Linked DNA regions of Homo sapiens: all the other regions are linked to region 4. The links come from fine-mapping of genetic effects on gene expression. A gene starts in region 4. Each other region holds a variant in brackets. All regions are shown on one strand. Distances are between the middles of the regions.

Region 1 (5,203 bases), 41 kb after region 4:
GGTCTCAAACTCCTGACCTCGTGATCCGCCTTCCTAGCCCTCCCAAAGTGCTGGGATTAAAGGCTTGAGCCACTGCGCCTGGCCTCAATTTTGTAATAGCTATAAGACTATTCAATTTGTGAGTATTTTAGGTGAGCTTTGGTTGTTTGTGTCTTTCAAGAAATTTGTTTTATCTAAGTTGCCTAATTTATAGTCATAAAATTATTCAAAGTATGCCCTTATACTTTTTATATCTGTAGGATCTGTAGTGATATTGCCTCTCTCATTCTTAATACTGGTAATTTGTGTCTTCTCTCTTTTTTACTTGATCAATCTGGCTAGAGTTTTATCAATTTTATAGATCTGCTTAAAGAATCAGCTGTTTGGTTTGATTTTTTTCTTTTGTTTTCTATTCATTGATTTCTGCTCTTATCTTTATAATTTCCTTTCTTCTGTTTACTTTGGCTTTAGCTTATCCTGCTTTTTCTATTTTCTTAAAGTAAAAGCTGAGGTCATTGATTTGAAACCTTTTTCATTTTTTAAGATAGGAATTTGGTGCTATCAATTTTCCTATAAGCATTTCTTTAGTCTTATCCCACAAATAGATTTCAATTTGGAGTGAAGTAAAAGCAAAACAAATGCAGAAATATATTATCTTGGAAAATCCTTAGGACAAAAATGGGAGATAGATCATCTGCCATTAAGTACAACACAGTCATTCAGGACCTTTGAAGTTGGTTATGTGGTTGGGTTGCTAGTAGGGACTAGGGTACAGTCAAACCTCTGGTCACAAAGCTGAATGGTAACTGTGGTTTCTGAGAAAGGGCACCTTTTCATAATTTGCCTGAAAGGATCCTACAGCTGCTCTGTCAATGTTTGTTTTCATTATTGGAAAAGATCACTTCTGTTTTGTTTTTTGTTCAGCTTAAGAAGTGATTGGCTCACTTTGAGGAACCTTATAAGAAAAAAAACAGATATCTTTATGTTGAAGTTTTCTTATCAGATGAGGCTGGATAATAATCTGTGGCCTGTCAAATGTTGTAAATATTTTCTTGTAATCTACCTTGCTTAACAAGTTGCCTATATATTTTTTTCTAGGAAAGGTGAAAAAAAAACAAAGAAAGATTGCTTATATTTTTAACTTATTTTTATCATATTTGTCTTCATTTATTCATTTATTACTTCTGTGTTTTGCTTAGTAAGACCTTTTCTATTTCAAAGGAATAAAAATATTCTTCTTTTTTTTCTAGTAGTTTTAGAATTTTATTTTTTACATTTAAATATTTCATCTGTCTGGAATCTATTTTTTGCATATGATACAAAGTAGGAGTTTCACTTTATTTCTCACCAATGTATAACCAATTTTACCCAACACCATTTATTGAATAACCCATCTTTTCCCAACTGATTTGAAGGACCATCTTCATTATACGCAAAGCACCTATAAATATATGAGTTTCCTGTGACTATCTGTCTTATTTTGTTCACTTGCTTGCTCATTTCTGCCCTCATGTTAATTACTATTGCTTTATAATACATTGTGGTATCTGGAAGGATGAGATTTTATTCTCTTTCTTTTTCAAATATTGTTTGGTCCCTCACATTTTATTTTCCACGTAAACTTGGAATCACTTTGTCTAGTTTTTTAAAATCCTGTTGAATTGCATTGAGTTTATAATTTAACCTGAGGAGAATGAATATCTTTACGATAGCAGTCTTTCTATCCAGGAACATGGTAGGATGCTACATTTATTCAAGTCCTTTTTTATGTGATTCTGTTATTTAACTAATTAGATTTCATTCCCAACTTTGTGCTAATTGCCATTTCAATAAGGCACATCTTTAGCATCCTTATTCAAGTAACTTATAAATCATTGACTGGAAAATAGTTTGATATAATGCATTACAGCTTACTACTAAAGACTGTCTTTGAGAGTAAAATTAACTCATTAGTCAACTATCCTTGGATACTGCTGTTAAACTAGTCTTCATTTCTAATTTAGCCTAGCCATCCCACAGGATTCAATCCAATCCTATCCAGCCCAATTCAATCCAATTAAATGGACCTCTCATTACTTGAGTTCCACATGCTAAGGTATGTATAGGCAGCAGAGAGTCTGCCAAATATCTTGTTGTCAATCAGCTTCATCAGGCATTCCTGGAATTATCTATC[A/G]AGTAATTTTGTTGACAAAGGGAAATGTGGTTGGTGTGGCATGAACTGTTTTTAGTGGATATGTGCTGTCCTATAATGTAAGAATTGGTTGCTCTGCTGGAGGAGTATGGTGGCACTAGGCCAAGGGATTAAGCAACAACAAAACTAGGGATGGGCAAGTGTAGTAAAACTGGGAAGTTGTTGCCTAAGCATGCATGAGAAGAAGTTAACCAGAAGCTCATTGGCATTGTAGACAGACAGCAGGGAGATTCAGTCAGTGACTGGGGGTGGAAATGAACAAGCAATATTCAAGAAGTTCACAAACTTTGGACATTGAGTTTAGTAGAATGTGTAAGTGTTTGTTTCGTAAGTCTCTTACGGTCTAGCCAGAGGAAAAGGACATAAAAAATAAACAGGAACTTCCAGGAAGATAGAGTAGAAGTATTTTTCCATATTTCTCCTATTAAATATGACTAAATCCCTGATCTAAAACAAATAAGAAAACTCCAAAAGGTGGAGCAGATTAGCTAGAGACGTTGGGACCCAAGAAACCATACGGTAGTAACATCACTGGATTTTCTCTGTGTCTCACACATCCCAGACTGTGCTGGAGAAGCTAGGAACCTGGAAATACAACAGGTAAACACAAAAAAATACTTCCAACAAAAGTCTGCTCTTTCTAACCAAAGGGCTAGAAAGACAGAAAACTTTTGGACCTCAAATACTCCACTCTAGCCAAGCAGTACAGAGACAGCTATGGCCCCACACCCACCCATGCTGCTAAAGGCCCATTGGGAGCAAGACTTCCACCCTCGACAGGCTATATTGAGGCCTTCAAATCTCTCTTCACTCCTGTAGCAGGCTGGTATCAGCGAAGGCCAGGTAGGGAGCTGGGGCTTTCATCCCTATCAGGCAGTAATGTGGCCCGCTTCCTCCTCCCTGTAGCATCAGTGGGACAATGTGGCAAGTCTGGACTTCAGCTCCCACCTACCAGTAACAAAGCTTCCTTCCCACTCCCTACTCGGGTTGTTTTAGAGCAGGAGGGCTAGTGGAGAGGCAGGACATTTGCCACCACCCAAAAGTAATGTAGTATCAGTGGAGGCTTCATGGGAATAGTAGCAAGCCACCAGGACAGTATTAGCAGAAACTTAGTGGGGGGACTCCCACCCTCACCAGCAGTAACAGGAGCCTCTCCCCACTTTGGGTATCAATGGAGACCAAGTGGATAATGGACTTCTACCCCTACCTGGCAGTAATGAGGCAGTGCCACCCCTTTCCCTGCCAGAGCAGTGTCAAAGGAAACGAGCTAAAATAGAGGTTTTAAATAAGAAATAGAAAATATAAAGAACTACATGGAAATTATAGAAAATACATTTAAAAACTTGCCGAATGGTCCTTTAAGCCAGAAGTTACTATGGGTCACGAACAATCTTGAGACTTTATTCCCTCTTTTTGAGACTTTATTCCCTCAAAGTTGCCCCCAAAGTTAAAGCCACAGCTACCCCCATAGGAGTGGCTCCACATCATCAGGACCTTGAGATCATCAAATTTCCAAATGGTTTTATGATTTCTCCTTTGGAAAACTATGCCCTGCATCAAGAATTGGTTTGTTCATTAAAGCAGGCAGTAGCTATGAGGACTCCAACAATTTAGTAACTTCTCATTTGCTGTGTCTTGCATCCAGTTTGACTACGAAAGGAGCTTCATTTTTCAAGATAGCCCATGACATTGAAGCAGCTGGTGGTAAATTAAGTGTAATTGCAACAAGAGAAAACATAGCTTACATCATGGAATGTCTGCAGAGTGATATTGATATTCTAATGGAGTTCCTGCTCAGTGTCGCCACAGCACCAGGATTTGGTCATTGGGAAGTAGATGCCTTCAGTCTCAGCTAAGGATAGACAGATCTGTGAATTTTCAGAATCCACAGGCACATGTCATTGAAAATTTGCATACTGAAGCTTATTGGGATGCCTTGGCTAATTCCTTGTATTGTCCTGGCTATAGGATTGGAAAAGTGACATGGGAAGAGTTACATTACTATGTTTAGAACCACTTCACAAGTGCAAGAATGGCTTGGTTGGACTTGGTGTGAGTCACCCTGTTCTAAAGCAAGTTGCTGAATAGTTTCTCAACAGGAGGGGTGGGTTTCTTTTGTCTGGTACAAAAGCCAAATACTCTGGAGGTGAAATTCAGGAACAAAATGGAGACAGTCTTGTCCATGCTTGCTCTTGTAGCAGAAAGTGCTGCCACAAGAAGGGCACAGCAAATGCATTTAGTGTTTTTCAGCATATCAAGAGGGACACCATATGTCAAGGGGCACAGTGATGCCACCAGCTATCTATAGCAGGCTATTGCCAAGGCAATTCACCAGCCACTTGCTATTTCTGTTTTTAATGCTAGTTACTCCAATTTTGGACTCTTCAGGATGTACATTGTCTTCCAGGCTGCAGCTGCTGGAGATGTTATCAAGGCTACCTATAACCAAGTGGAAATAATTGCTCAAGAAAAGCTTTTCAATGTCCAGGCTGCCAAGAACAAACTGAAAGCTGGATACCAAATATAAGTGAAGTCTTCCGAGGGTTTCATAGAAGAAGTCAGGCCCCAGGCTGTAGTTACTGGTTCTTACAAGCCAATATCACCAGTCCTTCAGTAGATTAGTTGGTTGGCTAGTGCTGTCATCATCAATTCTGCAAAGAAGTTTGCTTCTGGCTAGAAACAAACTTCTACTTGTTAATGGCAACAATTGGAACATACACCTTTGGTTGATGAGTTGTAATACAGAAGCACATATTATAGGAAAGGGCTGAACATTCTCTCAGCCCAGAGCCTCAAACACATGAAAGCCAGAAGTATCTAACATTTATCTTTGTGTGTTTTGTTTTTTTTTTTTTTTACAATGAGGTAAAATGCCTTAAAGCATAAATGTAGGCAATTATTCCCAGCTTACCTAAAGTCAATAAAACATTTTGCTTAAATGTTAGAAGAAAACTGACTGGATGGGTTCAAGAGCAGAATGGAGGAGACAGAGAAAAGAATCAGTGAACTGGAAGAATGAACAATAGAAATGAC
Region 2 (5,203 bases), 100 kb after region 4:
AAAAAAAAAAAAAAAAAGACAGAAACTAGCCTCATGGCTATTGAGCACTTGAAATGTGGCTACTGCAATTGAGAAACTGAACTTTTCATTTTATTTAATTTAAATAACCACATGTAGAAAGTGTCAGGCCTCTGAGCCCAAGCCAAGCCATTGCATCCCCTGTGACTTGCACATATATGCCCAGATGTCCTGAAGTAACTGAAGAATCACAAAAGAAGTGAATATGCCCTGCCCCACCTTAACTGATGACACTCCACCACAAAAGAAGTGTAAATGGCTGGTCCTTGCCTTAAGTGATGACATTACCTTGTGAAAGTCCTTTTCCTAGCTCATCCTGGCTAGGTGATTTTAAATCACCCCCACTGAGCACCTTGTGACCCCCACTCCTGCCTGCCAGAGAACAAACCCCCTTTGACTGCAATTTTCCTTTACCTACCCAAATCCTATAAAACAGCCCCACCCTTATCTCCCTTTGCTGACTCTCTTTTCGGACTCAGCCCGCCTGCACTCAGGTGAAATAAACAGCCATGTTGCTCACACAAAGCCTGTTTGGTGGTCTCTTCACAAGGATGCACATGAAATTTGGTGCCGTGACTCGGATTGTGGGACCTCCCTTGGGAGATCAATCCCCTGTCCTCCTGTTCTTTGCTCCGTGAGAAAGATCCACCTACGACCTCAGGTCCTCAGACCGACCAGCCCAAGAAACATCTCACCAACTTCAAATCCAGTAAGCGGCCTCTTTTTACTCTCTTCTCCAACCTCCCTCACTATCCCTCAACCTCTTTCTCCTTTCAATCTTGGCGCCACACTTCAATCTCTCCCTTCTCTTAATTTCAATTCCTTTCATTTTCTGGTAGAGACAAAGGAGACACCTTTTATCCATGGACCCAAAACTCCGGCGCCGGTCACAGACTGGGAAGGCAGCCTTCCCTTGGTGTTTAATCATTGCAGGGACGCCTCTCTGATTATTCACCCACGTTTCAAGGGTGTCAGACCACGCAGGGACGCCTGCCTTGGTCCTTCACCCTTAGCAGCAAGTCCCACTTTTCTGGGAAAGGGGCAAGTACCTCAACCCCTTCTCTCCATGTCTCTACCCCTTCTCTGCTTTTCTGGGGGAGGGGCAAGTACCCCTCAACCCCTTCTCCTTCACTCTTAGTGGCAAGTCCCACTTTTCTAGGGGGCAAGAACCCCCAATCCCTTATTTCTGCACCCCAACCTCTTATCTCTGCACCCCAATCCCTTATTTCCTCACCCTGACCTCTTATCTCTGTGCCCCAATCCCTTATTTCCGCACCCAGACCTCTTATCTCTGTGCCCCAATCCCTTATTTCCATGCCCCAACCCCCCTTCCCGCTTTTCTGGAGGGTAAGAACCCCTGAACCCCTTCCCTCCATGTCTCTACTCTCTCTTTTCTCTGGGTTTGCCTCCTTCACTATAGGCAAAATTCCACCCTCCATTCCTCCTTCTTCTCCTTTAGCCTGTGTCCTCAAGAACTTAAAACCTCAACTTACACCTGTCCTAAAACCTAAACGCCTTATTTTCTTCTGCAACACTGCTTGGCTCCAATACAAACTTGACAATGGCTCTAAATGGCCAGAAAATGGCACTTTCGATTTCTCCATCCTACAAGATCTAAATAATTCTTGTCTTAAAATAGGCAAATGGTCTGAGGTGCCTGATGTCCAGGCATTCTTTTACACATCAGTCCCTTCCTAGTCTCTGTGCCCAGTGCAACTTGTCCCAAATCTTCCTTGTTTCCCTCCCGCCTGTCCCCTCAGTCCCAACCCCAAGCATCGCTGAGTCTTTCTAATCTTCCTTTTCTACAGACCCATCTGACCTCTCCCCTCCTTGCCAGGCCAAGCTAGGTCCCAATTCTTCCTCAGCCTCCACTCCTCCACCCTGTAATCTTTTTATCGCCTCACCTCCTCACACCTGGTCCGGCTTACAGTTTCGTTCCATCACTAGCCCTTCCCCACCTGCCCAGCAATTTACTCTTAAAAAGGTGCCTGGAGCCAAAGGCATAGTCAAGGTTAATGCTCCTTTTTCTTTATCCCAAATCAGAAGCGTTTAGGCTCTTTTTCATCAAATATAAAAACCCAGCCCAGTTCATGGCTCATTCGGCAGCAACCCTGAGACGCTTTACAGCCCTAGACCCTAAAAGGTCAAAAGGCCATCTTATTCTCAATATACATTTTATTACCCAATCTGCTCCCGACATTAAATAAAACTCCAAAAATTAGAATCTGGCCCTCACACCCCACAACAGGACTTAATTAACCTCACCTTCAAGGTGTACAATGATAAAAAAAAAAAGTTGCAATTCCCTGCCTCCACTGTGAGACAAACCCCAGCCACATCCCCAGCACACAAGAACTTCCAAACACCTGAACCGCAGTGGCCAGGCGTTCCTCCAGAACCTCCTCCCCGAGGAGCTTGCTACAAGTGCCAGAAATCTGACCACCAGGCCAAGGAATGCCTGCAGCCCAGGATTCCCCCATCTGTGTGGGACCCCACTGGAAATCAGACTGTTCAACTCACCTGGCAGCCACTCCCAGAGCCCCTGGAACTCTGGCCCAAGGCTCTCTGACTGACTCCTTCTTGGCTTAGCGGCTGAAGACTGACACAGCCTGATCGCCTCGGAAGCCCCATAGACCATCACAGATGCCGAGCTTTAGGTAACTCTCACAGTGGAGGGTAAGTCCATCCCCTTCTTAATCAATACAGAGGCTACCCACTCCACATTACCTTCTTTTCAAGAGCCTGTTTCCCTTGCCTCCATAACTGTTGTGGGTATTGATGCCCAGGCTTCTAAACCTCTTAAAACTCCCCAACTCTGGTGCCAACTTAGACAATACTCTTTTATGCACTCTTTTTTAGTTATCCCCACCTGCCCAGTTCCCTTATTAGGCC[G/A]AGATATTTTAACCAAATTATCTGCTTCCCTGACTATTCCTGGACTATAGCCGCATCTCATTGCTGCCCTTCTTCCCAATCCAAAGCCTCCTTTGCGTCCTCTTCTTGTATTCCCCCACCTTAACCCACAAGTATAAGATACCTCTACTCCCTCCTTGGCGACCAATCATGCTCCCCTTACCATCTCGTTAAAACCTAATCACCCTTACCCTGCTCAATGCCAAGATCCCATCCCACAGCACGCTTTAAAAGGATTAAAGCCTGTTATCACTCGCCTGCTAAGGCATGGCCTTTTAAAGCCTATAAACTCTCCTTACCATTCCCCCATTTTACCTGTCCTAAAACCAGACAAGCCTTACAAGTTAGTTCAGAATCTGCACCTTATCAACCAAATTGTTTTGCCTATCCACCCCGTGGGGCCAAACCCATATAACCTCCTATCCTCAATACCTCCCTCTACTACCCATTATTCTGTTCTGGATCTCAAACATGCTTTCTTTACTATTCCTTTGCACCCTTCATCCCAGCCTCTCTTTGCTTTCACTTAGACTGACCCTGACACCCATTAGGCTCAGCAAATTACCTGGGCTGTACTGCCACAAGGTTTCACAGACAGCCCCCATTACTTCAGTCAAGCCCAAATTTCATCGTCATCTGTTACCTATCTCGGCATAATTCTCATAAAAACACACGTGCTCTCCCTGCTGATCCTGTCCGATTAATCTCCCAAACCTCAATCCCTTACAAAACAACAACTCCTTTCCTTCCTAGGCATGGTTAGTGCAGTCAGAATTCTTACACAAGAGCCAGGACTGCACCCTGTAGCCTTTCTGTCCAAACAACTTGATCTTACTGTTTTAGCCTAGCCCTCATGTCTGCATGCAGCAGCTGCCACTGCTTTAATACTTTTAGAGGCCCTAAAAATCACAAACTATGCTCAACTCACTCTCTACATTTCTCATAACTTCCAAAATCTATTTTCTTCCTCATACCTGATGCATATACTTTCTGCTCCTTGGCTCCTTCAGCTGTACTCACTCTTTGTTAAGTCTCCCACAATTACCATCATTCCTGGCCCGGACTTCAGTCCAGCCTCCCACATTATTCCAGAAACCACACCTGACCCTCATGACTGTATCTCTCTGATCCACCTGACATTCACCCCATTTCCCCATATCTCCTTCTTTCCTGTTCCTCACCCTGATCATGCTTGATTTATTGATGGCAGTTCCACCAGGCCTAATCACCACACACCAGCAAAGGCAGGCTATGCTATAGTACAAGCCACTAGCCTGCCTCTTAGAACCTCTCATTTCCTTTCCATTGTAGAAATCTATCCTCAAGGAAATCACTTCTCAGTGTTCCATCTGCTATTCTATGTGCTATTCTACTACTCCTCAAGGATTATTCAGGCCCCCTCCCTTCCCTACACATCAAGCTCGAGGATTTGCCCCTGCCCAGGACTGGCAAATTAGCTTTACTCAACATGCCCTGAGTCACAAAAACTAAAATACCTCTTAGTCTAAGTAGACACTTTCACTAGATAGGTAGAGGCCTTTCCTACAGGGTCTGAGAAGGGCACCGCAGTCATTTCTTCCCTTCTGTCAGACATAATTCCTCAGTTTAGCCTTCCCACCTCTATACAGTCTGATAACAGACCAGCCTTTATTAGTCAAATCAGCCAAGCAGTTTTTCAGGCTCTTAGTATTCAGTGAAACCTTTATATCCCTTATAGTCCTCTGTCTTCAAGAAAAGTAGAACGGACTAAAGGTCTTTTAAAAACACACCTCACCAAGCTCAGCCACCAACTTAAAAAGAACTGGACAATACTTTCACCACTTTCCCTTCTCAGAAGTCAGACCTGTCCTCGGAATGCTATAAGGTACAGCCCATTTAAGTTCCTGTATAGATGCTCCTTTTCATTAGGCCCCCAGTCTCATTCCAGACACCGGACCACCTTAGACTGTGCCCCAAAAAAACTTGTCATCCCTACTATTTTCTATCTAGTCATACTCCTGTTCTCTGTTCTCAACTACTCATACATGCCCTGCTCTTGTTTACACTGCCAGTTTACACTGTTTTTTCAAGCCATCACAGCTGATATCTCCTCGTGCTATCCCCAAACCGCCGCTCTTAACTCTTGAAGTAAATAAATAATCTTTGCTGGCAGGACTATGCTGAATCTCCTTAGGCACTCTCTAATCAGATGTCCTAGGTCCTCCCGATTCTTAGACCTTTTATACCTGTTTTTCTCCTTCTCTTATTCCATTTAGTTTTTCAATTCATACAAAAC
Region 3 (5,000 bases), 150 kb after region 4:
GGTGGGATCACAGGTCACACCTGTAATCCCAGCACTTTGGGAGGCTGGGGCAAGAGGGTCACTAGAGCCCATGAGTTTGAGACCAACCTAGGCAACATGATAACACACCCATTTCTACAAAAAATATATATATATATATATACATATTTTTTCAAATTAGCCAGGTGTGGTGCCATGCACCTGTGGTTCCAGCTACTTAGGAGACTGAAGTGGGAGGATCACTTGAGCCCAGAAGGTTGAGGCTGCAGTGAGCCATGATCATGCTACTGCACCCCAGCCTGGGCGACAGAGCAAGACCTTGTCTAAAAAAAAAAAAAAAAAAAAGTAAATTCTCAGGCCCCATTCCAGACCTACTGAACTTAATCTCTGGAGATAAGTCCAGAAATCTGTTTTAACAAGCCCTCTGTAGATTCTGATGGATATTCAAATTCGAGAACCATTGCTTTAGGCCAGGGATTCTAGTTCTCAGATTTTTTAACATATTAAAATTCCAATGCCCAGGCTGCACCCTAGACCAAGTACATCAGAATATCTGGGGGTGGGCCTAGGAGTCAATTGTCCTTCAAGCTTCCATGTGACTCTAACATAGCGGAGGCAACACTGGTTTCACCTACCTTCTTCCAATTCTGGGATCCACCTCTTCCCAGCCTCAAATCTTGCTCAGGCTTTAGATGTGATAACCTGGAGATTGTTTTCTTGGAGTTCTTCCACAATGGCCTCTGGCTCCTCAGTTCCCCACCATCGCTGATTTGGAGAGAGTGTGTGGCCAGAAGACAAGGCCCAGCAGTTGAATATGAGGTTGAACCTGATGACGGCCAGGGTCCATGAGCTCTGCAGGTGTTAAAGACAGAGTCATCCACATCCACCACTGGCAGGGTCCCCTGCATCTCTTCCCTGAACATTGGTGCCAAGGCTGGGGTGGAAGGCTGTCTCAGGACAGGGTTTGGCTTAGTGCTGGGCTTCCACTGCAACCTCTCTGGGGCAAAGGAAGCTGCCCACATCTCCCCCTTCTCTCCAAGGAAGAGGAACATTGATGTGGATCAAGGACAATACGGCAACCTTGAGAGAACACTACAGCTTTTAAGGAGAGGAGTCAAAGGGCTTTTAAGAGAAATGAATGGAGCAAGGTCATCCCTCTTTGCTGGTTTCTCTCTTGTCTCTCTGTGCTGCCCCCATTGTACACATCTGCTGTGGTGAGAGGGGTGTGTGCACTAAGGGGTTTGCAAGGCCATAGGAGACCTGAGTGTGGGTGTGGGAGGGGAGACAGAGCAGGCAACTGAGCAGCCTCTTGTTTAGGCCTTGAGCTAAAGAGAGAAAGAAGGCTTCCTAGCTCATAGCTGGTCCAGCCTAACTCTTCTGAAGAAAGATCACATGGGACTCTGAGCCAAAAGCATTGAGAAAATCTAGATCCATGCCCCCCAAATTTAAGCATGCATCAGAATCATGCCAGTCTTTGTCAAAACCTGGATTGCTTGGCCGCATCCCCAGGATTTCTGAGTCAGTATATCTGGCATGTAACCCCAGAACTTGCATGGCTAGCAATGTCCCAGGGAATGTGAATGCTGCTGGTCCAGGGACCTCACTTTGAGAACCACTGCTCTAAAGGACTTCCTCACCCCTTCCCACCCTCGATGCACCCTTCCTTAGCCCAGGGTATTTCCCAGGCCACTACAAAAGCTGTTCCTCATTGTGGTAACTTGGTTAATTGTTTGTGATCCTTCCTAAGCTATAAGCTCTCAAAGAATGGATCCAGCCTCTTTCTTCACCACTATATCCCAAGCACCTAACACAATGTCCGGCACATTGTGAGTACTGAATAAATATTTGTTCAATGAACAAGCAGATTTGCCTGGTACATCCCCTCTGTGGAATGAAACCTAGAGCAGAGCTGGAAGCCTGGTCAAGGATGAGGTACTGACCATGTCCCTTACTTTAGACAGGATCAAGGAAAAGGCAGGCCTCACAAGCCTCTGTTCTCTTTGGAAACTGATCCACCAGCAAAGTACTGCAAATAGCCAGGCACATGCAGACCCCCATTTATTTCTTTGGGGTGAAGCTGAGTGATGATCAGATGTCAAGCTTAGGCCATCTTGTCTGAATTCTTCATTTTACAGATAAGAAAACTGAACCATGAAGAGACAAGTGATCTTTTCAAAGCACATTCACACTGATGATTTCTGAAACAGTGCTTTGTAGCAATGCCGTGAGGAAGGTTAGGGGTGTCCCCACTTTATAGAAGACACAAGGGCAGAGGCAGAGTAGGTGTTGGCAGTTGTGAGGAGAGTCACAGTACTCATCATTTGTCAGACATTTTTCACTGTGCCAGGCACTCTGACATTTTTCATGTACAAGTTGACTTCGTGCTTCTCCTCTGAGGTAAGCATTCAATACTCCCATTTAGCAGAGTAGGAACCAAGACTTAGAAAGGTGAGTGATCTGCCCATGTCACAGGTGGAGAGCTGGGATTTGAACTTGGCCCATGTTTGACCATCACGTAAAACAGGAATGGGGCATCAGAAAGGGAAGGTCAAAATGTAACCAACAGACCTATATTCCCTTCATGCTGGAGGTTCCTGGGGCAAAGCCACTCTCTGAGGTTTGGTGGGGAGGGACTTGGGGAGCAGAGAGCAGAGGGACAATGAGCTCCCAGAAGCCGAGGGGCATAGGGTGCCAAAGAGAAGCTGCTGCCTCTGTGAGCACCCATGTCAGTTAGTTTTGAGGAACAGGACTCAGGGTTCCAGTTTAAATCCTTCCATTCACAATCTTTAAGAAGAAGAAAAAAAAGAAGTCTGCCGCTGACCACAAGAGCTCTATGCCCTGCCCCCATCCCACATACACACATCCCACACTTCAATTGCTCCAAACATTCTGGGAACATCTCACTGCCACCCACCTCACCCAACTCAGCTTCACCTGCCCCCAATTCCCTTAAGGCTGAGCTCCCAGGGCCAAGACTCAAGAGGCTCAGAGTGAGCAGAGAAAATCCTCGCAGTTAACTTGGCTTCCAGGAAGTGGCCACTGGTGGGCGTTGTGGCCATTCATGAGCACCAAACCACACAAAAAGAA[GAAC/C]TTTGTCCCTTTCTTGTCATTTTGAAAGACTGTGAAACTGGAGCCAATTCTCCATCATCACACAGGAAGCTGAGTACTTCCTACTTGGTCAGGATCTTGAAACTTGAATTCATAAAAACCCAGAAAGCCCCAGAAACAAAGACTTCACGGACAAAGTCCCTTGGAACCAGAGTAAGTGTCACTTGTCTTTTCTGTCTTATCTGTTACTGTGGAGGGCAGTGTTGTTCAAAGACATGCATGCAGCTAGGGGCTCCTCAAAGGTAGGGGGAATTCTTTGAGTAGGCTGGGCAAATGTCTAAGTAGCCCATGGATGCATCTCCAAGGCAATTAATACTGTAGCAATACTGAGAATGGTGGATTTATAAAGCTGGGTGCTCAGATGAAATATAGGCTTTTTTGCTAAAAAGGAAGCTTACTTGAAGGATTGGCTTTTGGTTACTGATTAAGAAAGTCAGTCAGTACTAAGGGACAAAAGGTGTTTTCTGTGGAAACCTATTCAATAAGAAATTACTTGGCGGGGCGCAGTGGCTCACGGCTGTAATCCCAGCACTTTGGGAGACCGAGGCAGGTGGATCATGAGGTCAAGAGATGGAGACAATCCTGGCCATATGGTGAAACCCTGTCTCTACTAAAAATAAAAATTAGCCGGGCATGGTGGCGCATGCCTGTAGTCCCAGCTACTCAAGAGGCTGAGGCAGGAGAATCACTCGAATCCGGGAGGTGGAGGTTGCAGTGAGCTGAGATTGCACCACTACACTCCAGCCTGGCGACAGAGCAAGAGTCTGTCTGAAAAAAAAAAAAAAATTGCTTGCCAAATTCCCCCATGTAAAGGAAAACCAAACATGGTGTATGAAGAAATTATAGCAAGAGGGAAATATTAGCTAGAAAAATCTTGGCAGATGCAAGGATGATTTGATACTGAACCTATCTCTTAAGAAGACTAGAACCAAGGATCCTCAAAATTGGCACTGCTATCTTTGGAAGAGGTAGGCTTTCACTCACCCAAAGGCAAGGAGCTGGCCAGGTGATCTTGGGGGGCATCTGTTCTGCTCTACTAACAAAGACACAGGTCAGGATTTTGTTCTGAAGATAGAGGGGCATGGTGGCTCCGTATAGGTATCTACTTCATAGGTGGTCTTGGTGGGTCCCAGATTTCAAAGAAGAGATGGAAACTCCCAAAAGTTTGCACAACCTGGCACCAGGCTATGTGCCACTCACTGATCCTTTAGTTCCCGCACCGAGCAGTGGGACAGTGCTGGACTGTTCAGAATGTGGGGCCTGGGCAGTGATGTGCTGGTAAATGTTCAACAACTGACTCTTCTGAAGAAAAGATCCCTGCTTTATAACATTTGTTGATTTTCATGGTATAAATGCCCCCACTGTGGTCAGTTTCAAGCTACCAACATGCTGAATGTGGAGTGGGGAAGAGATGCACGCAATTGGCATTTATAAACCAGTATAAGCCAGCCAGCGCACCATAGGCCTGGGTGTCTTTCACCATCACAGACTGCTCTATCTCTGCTCAGAGACTTCACCAACTCCCAGGCTGGAGGACACTAGCAGTGGAGGGTCCAGGATCCAGGGCTATAGCTGACCACTGTGCAGTGGCCTTGAGGCAGACTTCTGCAGTAGACTACAGCAGGGCTGGCAGATTAGATGACAACATGGTCCTTTGGTTTCTCTTCTCGGGCCCCACCCCAGATCACCTCCCTTTAGGAACAGCATGCCTTGGAGTGGTTGCCTGGGGCTTAACAAGTTGGGGAAATAACAAATGGGTTGGAGGTAGGGGGTGTATGGAGGTGACTCGGTTTAAAATGCCACCTGACAATGTTGACTCAACTTGCCTTTGCCTTTGCCAAACCTTCCCAGAAACTGGACTCATGGGATCAGGCTTGCACTAGCTGCTCTTTGTGCTTTCCAAGCTATTTGCA
Region 4 (5,203 bases):
CTTGACCTCCTGATGCACCCGCCTTGGCCTCTCAAATTGCTGGGAGAAAAACAAGCCCCTGTTTTAAAGCCATTATGAACTGCATTTTCTGTTCTCTGAAGTCAAAAACGTTCTAACTGATGATTCTCTCAGCTTTCTGCCTCCATCATCCTGCCAAAACTTCTCTTGTTAAGATTGCAGTGACAACCCAATTTTTCAAATGCCCTGGTTTTATTCCAATTCCACCCTCTTCAAGTATTTGATCCTTCTGCTAACTTCCTCCATTTACAATTCTTTTTGGCTTCCAGATGGGAGGGGCTGTGCTACCGCTTTTTATTCATGTTCTTTGCTGGCATCTCCTCCCCGTGCCCACACCTTAAGATTCCCCAGGCACCACACTTAGCTCTCACCTCTTTAATTTTTTGCCTCTTTATCCTTGCTACAAAGTTCTTCCTGAATTGTATTGTCTAAACTCATGGTTCCTACTCCCTTCTATGCTACTGTTTTCTAAAGCTCTGTCTTCAAGCTCCAGCTTTCCCCTAAGCCTTAGAGTTGAATTTCCCATTGCCTGATGCATATCTCCCCATGCATGTATTCACTGCATCAACACTTATTGAACACCTACTATGAACCATACTCAGTTTTAGGCACTGAAGTGAGCAAAGTGGGTATCATGCAGGGACCTCAAATTCAACCCACCCCAAATGGGGCACTGCTGAAAACTCCTTCCGATTGTGGATTCCTCCATTGCCTAAGAAGCAAAATTGGGCATTGCCCTGGGTTGCTTCTCCTTCTGAAAATTAGGAGCCAGTTTTTGGAGCCAAACAAACCTGGATTTGAATCCTTATAGGCAGTGTAATCTGGGGCCAATTACTCCTTCAAGTGCCGATTTCTTTATGCATAAAATATTAACTATGCTGAGTTGCTGTGAAGATCAATGGAGTAAGGACTTAGGACAGCATCTGACACAGAGAAATGCCCTGTATTATTATCATGTCATTTGAGTTCCACCTCATAGATGCCTCTCAGATTCATCCCCTCTGCACTGCTTTCAACTGTCACTTTCTTGCTTCACACACTCCTCACTCCTGGCTTTGTTGTAGTCTTTCCTTTGCTCATGGCTCATCTCAAGCCATGTTCCCTCTCAACCTATCTTCTCTTAAGTTGAAATTGAATAGTCACTCTTAGCTTAAAACCTCCAGTAGCCCTATGACTTATATGTGGTGGGCTTCAAAGATAATGTCCAGACTGCCCAGCACAACATCTTTTCTGAGTTTGCCTCTTTTCAGCCTCACCTCCAGTCCCTTCTCCAATCCCAAATCCTGTGCTTCAGTCACAGCCATCTTCTCTTCATTTTCCCTAAACTCACCATTTCCTTCATGCTTCAGTGGTTTTGCAGGTCCTTGCCCCTCTGCCCAAAATGATTGGTGAGCTTCTATTCACCCTTCAATACCTCCTGCTCAAATCCCCCTTCTCTGTGAAGCCTAATCTGTATCCTCTGTCATATTACTCTTATCACATAACACTGCATGCATCTAGATAAGCACTTATTATGTTATCTGCTACACACAGCATGTTCCTCAAGATCAAGGACTGGATTATGCTTCTATTTTCAGCTCTTATGATAGTACCTGGCTAAAGGAGGCACCAATAAATGTTCACTGAATGAGTACATAAAACTCTTTATAATAAGAACTATAAGCCCTAACATCATCAGGACTTGATTCTCAAGAATTTTTTTTCTGGCAGTGACTGTGAATTTCTTTTCCACCCACCTGTATACTTTATCCTTCCATTTCTCTTGCAATTGACACTTTTCACAAGTCTTGTATTTCATATCACTGAGCCAGATTCTTGAAATCTGGAGAAGCTAAATAAGACCTCTGATCAAAGTTGGAAAAAAATGCATCTGCCTAAAGAATCACAACTGTGGTCATTAATTGAGTGCTCCTGAAGCTCAGATGCTATGTTAAATGCTGTGCACACATTACTTAATTTCATTTTTACAACTGGCTAGCATGTAGCTTCTACTACAGTGAACAATGAGCAAGATGCCTGAAATGTGCTGTCCTAGGTGTCATTTCAAGTGTCAGAACATGTCACCCAGAACTGATAGAAATCTATCTTTCAGAAAATAAATTCCTTACTTCTGCCTCTGTGGATCTCCTGAGTTGAGGCAAGGGACACATTTTGGTTCAGAGCTTGGATGGTCCTATATTTAGACTAACAGTTCCAGCTCTTTAACGTCCTTGGGTGCTCAGAGGGGCAGAGTGAGCCCCTGGGTGTGTGGACTGGTGACTGAGCAGAGTGGCTGTCCTGGCCTCGCTTGCTGCCCACTCTCCCCCATCACCTGCTGCACGCTGCTCTTCCTCAGGGTTTCTCTAACATCTCCTGGTGCACATGCCATCCCCACCCCTGCCTCTCATCTTGATCATTCCCCCCAAGTGTGCAGGCTTTGCAGTTCCCCAGGGTGTACCCAGACCCGGCATTTCCAGCTTTGAGGTGCGTTGAGCCTATGAATCAGAAAGTAATGGAAAAAATGCCTACAACTCACCAGCTTGTGGCTTGTCTCAGGCAGTCCTGGTATGTCAGGCTTCTCAGCAACTGAACCAAACAGATCTAGAGGTAGAAACTTGGCATGCAGAAGTAGGAAATAAAGTTTCCTGCAGAAAGTGAAGGCGGAGATACAGGGCAACTAATGGTAAAGATTTGAAAAAAAAAATCAGAAAAATATAGTTCTTCTTTTCCAGTCAGGAACATTGTACATTGGGTTGAGGTCTCCAGAATAGGATTAATTTTGAAATCTTGCTTATGCAACCTTGAGTGTGAGTCAGGCAAACCCTGTACATCTGCTCCTGTTTCTAACGACTCTGAGCTTCTTTATCTTGTGGGTCTTTATACCTGGAACATTTCCACTCTCTGCTCTCCTACTAGTGATAATTTGCATGATATGAGCACAACAGAATGTTTCATGTTCCAGAGAATAAAGGGTATTGGTGATAGTGGAGGAAGTATAATGAGGTTTTACTGCGATCATGTGTGCTGGTTTCAGTGGTATCATGGATTCAGAATCTGGTTAGAAATTTCATTTAGATAAGACTTTAAAATTTTTTTTTATTTAATTCACATAATAATTGTATATATTTATGGGACACAATGTGATGTTTTGCTACATGTATACATTGTGCAATGATCAAATCAGGGTAATTACATATCCATCCTCTGAAACATTTATCATTTCTTTTGAAATAATAATGATATTGAAAACCCTCTCTTCTAGCTATTTATATATACAGAATTCATTATTAACTACCGTCACCCTACTTGGAGCAGAGCACCAGCACTTGTTTCTCCTATCTCATGGTAACTTTGTACCCGTTGATCAACTGCTGCCCATTCTCACCTCCTCTCTTTCCTCCCCAGTCTCTGGTAACCACTGCTCTACTGTCTTTTTCTAAGATAGCAACTTTTTTTTTTTTTTTAAATTGGGTTTCATTCTGTCACCCAGACCGGAGTGCACTGGCACAGTCTCAGCTCACTGCTACCTCCACCTTCTGAGTTCAAGCCATCCTCCCACCTCAGCCTCCTGAGTAGCTAGGATTACAGGTGTGTGCCATCATGCCCGGCTAAGCAACTTATTTAAAAAAAAATTCCACATAAGAGTGAGATCACGTGGTATTTGTCTATCTGTGTGTGGCTTATTTCACTTAACATCCTCTAGGTTCATCCACATTATCACAAATTACAGGATTTCAAACTTTTTAATGAAAAGGAAATGCTAAATTATCTCTTGTGTCAGGAACGTCCTTAGCAAGAAGAACCTCAGTTATTTTAAATGCCCCTCCTTGGAAAGACGTTTTGTTAAAAGATAATGTAAATTTTGCAATGGGGACATCAGACTAGGAGCATTCCTAAGATTGTGCAGAGAACATGGTGTCATCTAAGTTGGCCCCTGGCACTTTCTGGAATCCAGCAGACACCGGAGGCAGGATCTCATGCTGTGGACTTGGCAAGTTTCTAAGTTTCCATTTCCCAAATATGAAATATGAATAACAAGACTGGGGGTCTATGAGGGTAAATGGACCTAAAGCAGCTAGAGCAGGGTCTGGCAGGCACTCCACAGGTAACAAACAGAACAGAACAGTCTGAGCCCTGCAGAGTGCCAGAGGTTGAAGGATGCATCCACTGCTAGAGCCAACAACAATCAAATGCTCAGGGCAGTCCAGGTGTCCTTTCCAGATTTCAAGAAGTTGGCTTTTTTGCTGTTGTTGTTGTTGTTGTTGTTGTTGTGTTATGTTGTGTTTTTGCTTTCTTTTGCGACAAGATCTTGCTCTGTTGCCTAGGCTGGAGTGCGGTGGCATGATCATGCTTCACTGCAGTCTCAACCTCAAGCAATCCTCTCATCTCAGCCTCCCAAGTAGCTGAGACTACAGGTGCATGCCACCATGCCTGACTATTTTTTGTAGAGATGGGGTTTTGTCATGTTGCCCGGGCTGGTCTCGAACTCCTGGGCTCAGGCAATCTGCCTGCCTCAGCCTCCTGAAGGGCTGGGATTACAGGTGTGAGCTCCTACACCCAGCCCAGATTTCAGTCAGTTGTAACCATGTGTCCTGTGTAAGACCTGGTATATGTGCTAAGTAAGACCTGAGACTTGAAGGGTCTCAGGTTTTTTCTTGGAAGACAGCTCATTGCCTGTTCAGGAACATAGCAAGTTCCCCAGTTGTCTCTCAATGTGTCTCTGGGCCGGAATTGGAGCATATCTCTGAGATTTCAATAATAAGACAGGTCATCCCTGACCTGGTAACACTGAGCTTGCTGCCACTTCTGGAATCTCCTGACCCTGGCATCTTGCCACCTGTTCCTATGATTCAACCCAGGATGGGGAAGAGCAAGAGCCAGAAATTTTGCTCTGGCTGATTAGGACCGCTCTCCAATTTTGTCTTCACATTGTGATCTTTGTCTCCAGCCCTGTAATTTCATAAACAAGGAGAGGCACAGAGGTAGATAGTTGCAGAGCCAGGATTCAAACCTTTGGCTTATACTGACACAGAGGGCAGGATAACAGAGGGCACCCTCCGCTGAGATTTTGAAGAGACAGTATAGAATGAAAATATTTTTGGAGGGGTGAGCAGGCTTAAAAGAAGCAACAGGGATGGTGAGGTGGTCTGTCATCCCTATGCTTTGTGGGAGACCAGAATTTGACACCCTAAAATGTACCTCTTTT

Alleles and levels. Positions count from the first base shown, and alleles are read on the strand shown. Sizes are in standard deviations (SD) of each study's normalised expression. Not every link is listed here.
With allele G in place of A in region 2, the expression in monocytes after LPS of the gene that starts at base 2,600 in region 4 is higher (moderate effect, 0.58 SD a copy in Quach 2016).

What was found.
Region 1: its variant is fine-mapped to the expression of CCR2 in whole blood (INTERVAL, PIP above 0.99). The same link has a PIP of 0.9 or more in sun-exposed skin.
Region 2: its variant is fine-mapped to the expression of CCR2 in monocytes after LPS (Quach 2016, PIP 0.95).
Region 3: its variant is fine-mapped to the expression of CCR2 in whole blood (TOPMed, PIP above 0.99). The same link has a PIP of 0.9 or more in blood mononuclear cells and monocytes.

What each region holds. Positions count from the first base shown.
Region 1 is chr3:46,310,298-46,315,500 of GRCh38, reverse strand. It overlaps the pseudogene UQCRC2P1. Among named protein-coding and RNA genes, the nearest start is that of CCR2, 41 kb to the left of the region's middle. The variant A/G (reference allele first, on the strand shown) is at 2,153.
Region 2 is chr3:46,246,984-46,252,186 of GRCh38, reverse strand. All of the region lies in intron 1 of CCR3 (C-C motif chemokine receptor 3), which reads right to left. Among named protein-coding and RNA genes, the nearest start is that of CCR3, 7.1 kb to the right of the region's middle. The variant G/A (reference allele first, on the strand shown) is at 2,911.
Region 3 is chr3:46,206,522-46,211,521 of GRCh38, reverse strand. CCR1 (C-C motif chemokine receptor 1) reads left to right here and starts at 3,209. Exons shown (of 2, transcript NM_001295.3): 1 at 3,209-3,240. It also overlaps a transcript of CCR3 not described here. The variant GAAC/C (reference allele first, on the strand shown) is at 3,067.
Region 4 is chr3:46,351,508-46,356,710 of GRCh38, reverse strand. It overlaps CCR2 (C-C motif chemokine receptor 2), which reads right to left and starts at 2,600. Exons shown (of 2, transcript NM_001123396.4): 1 at 2,534-2,600.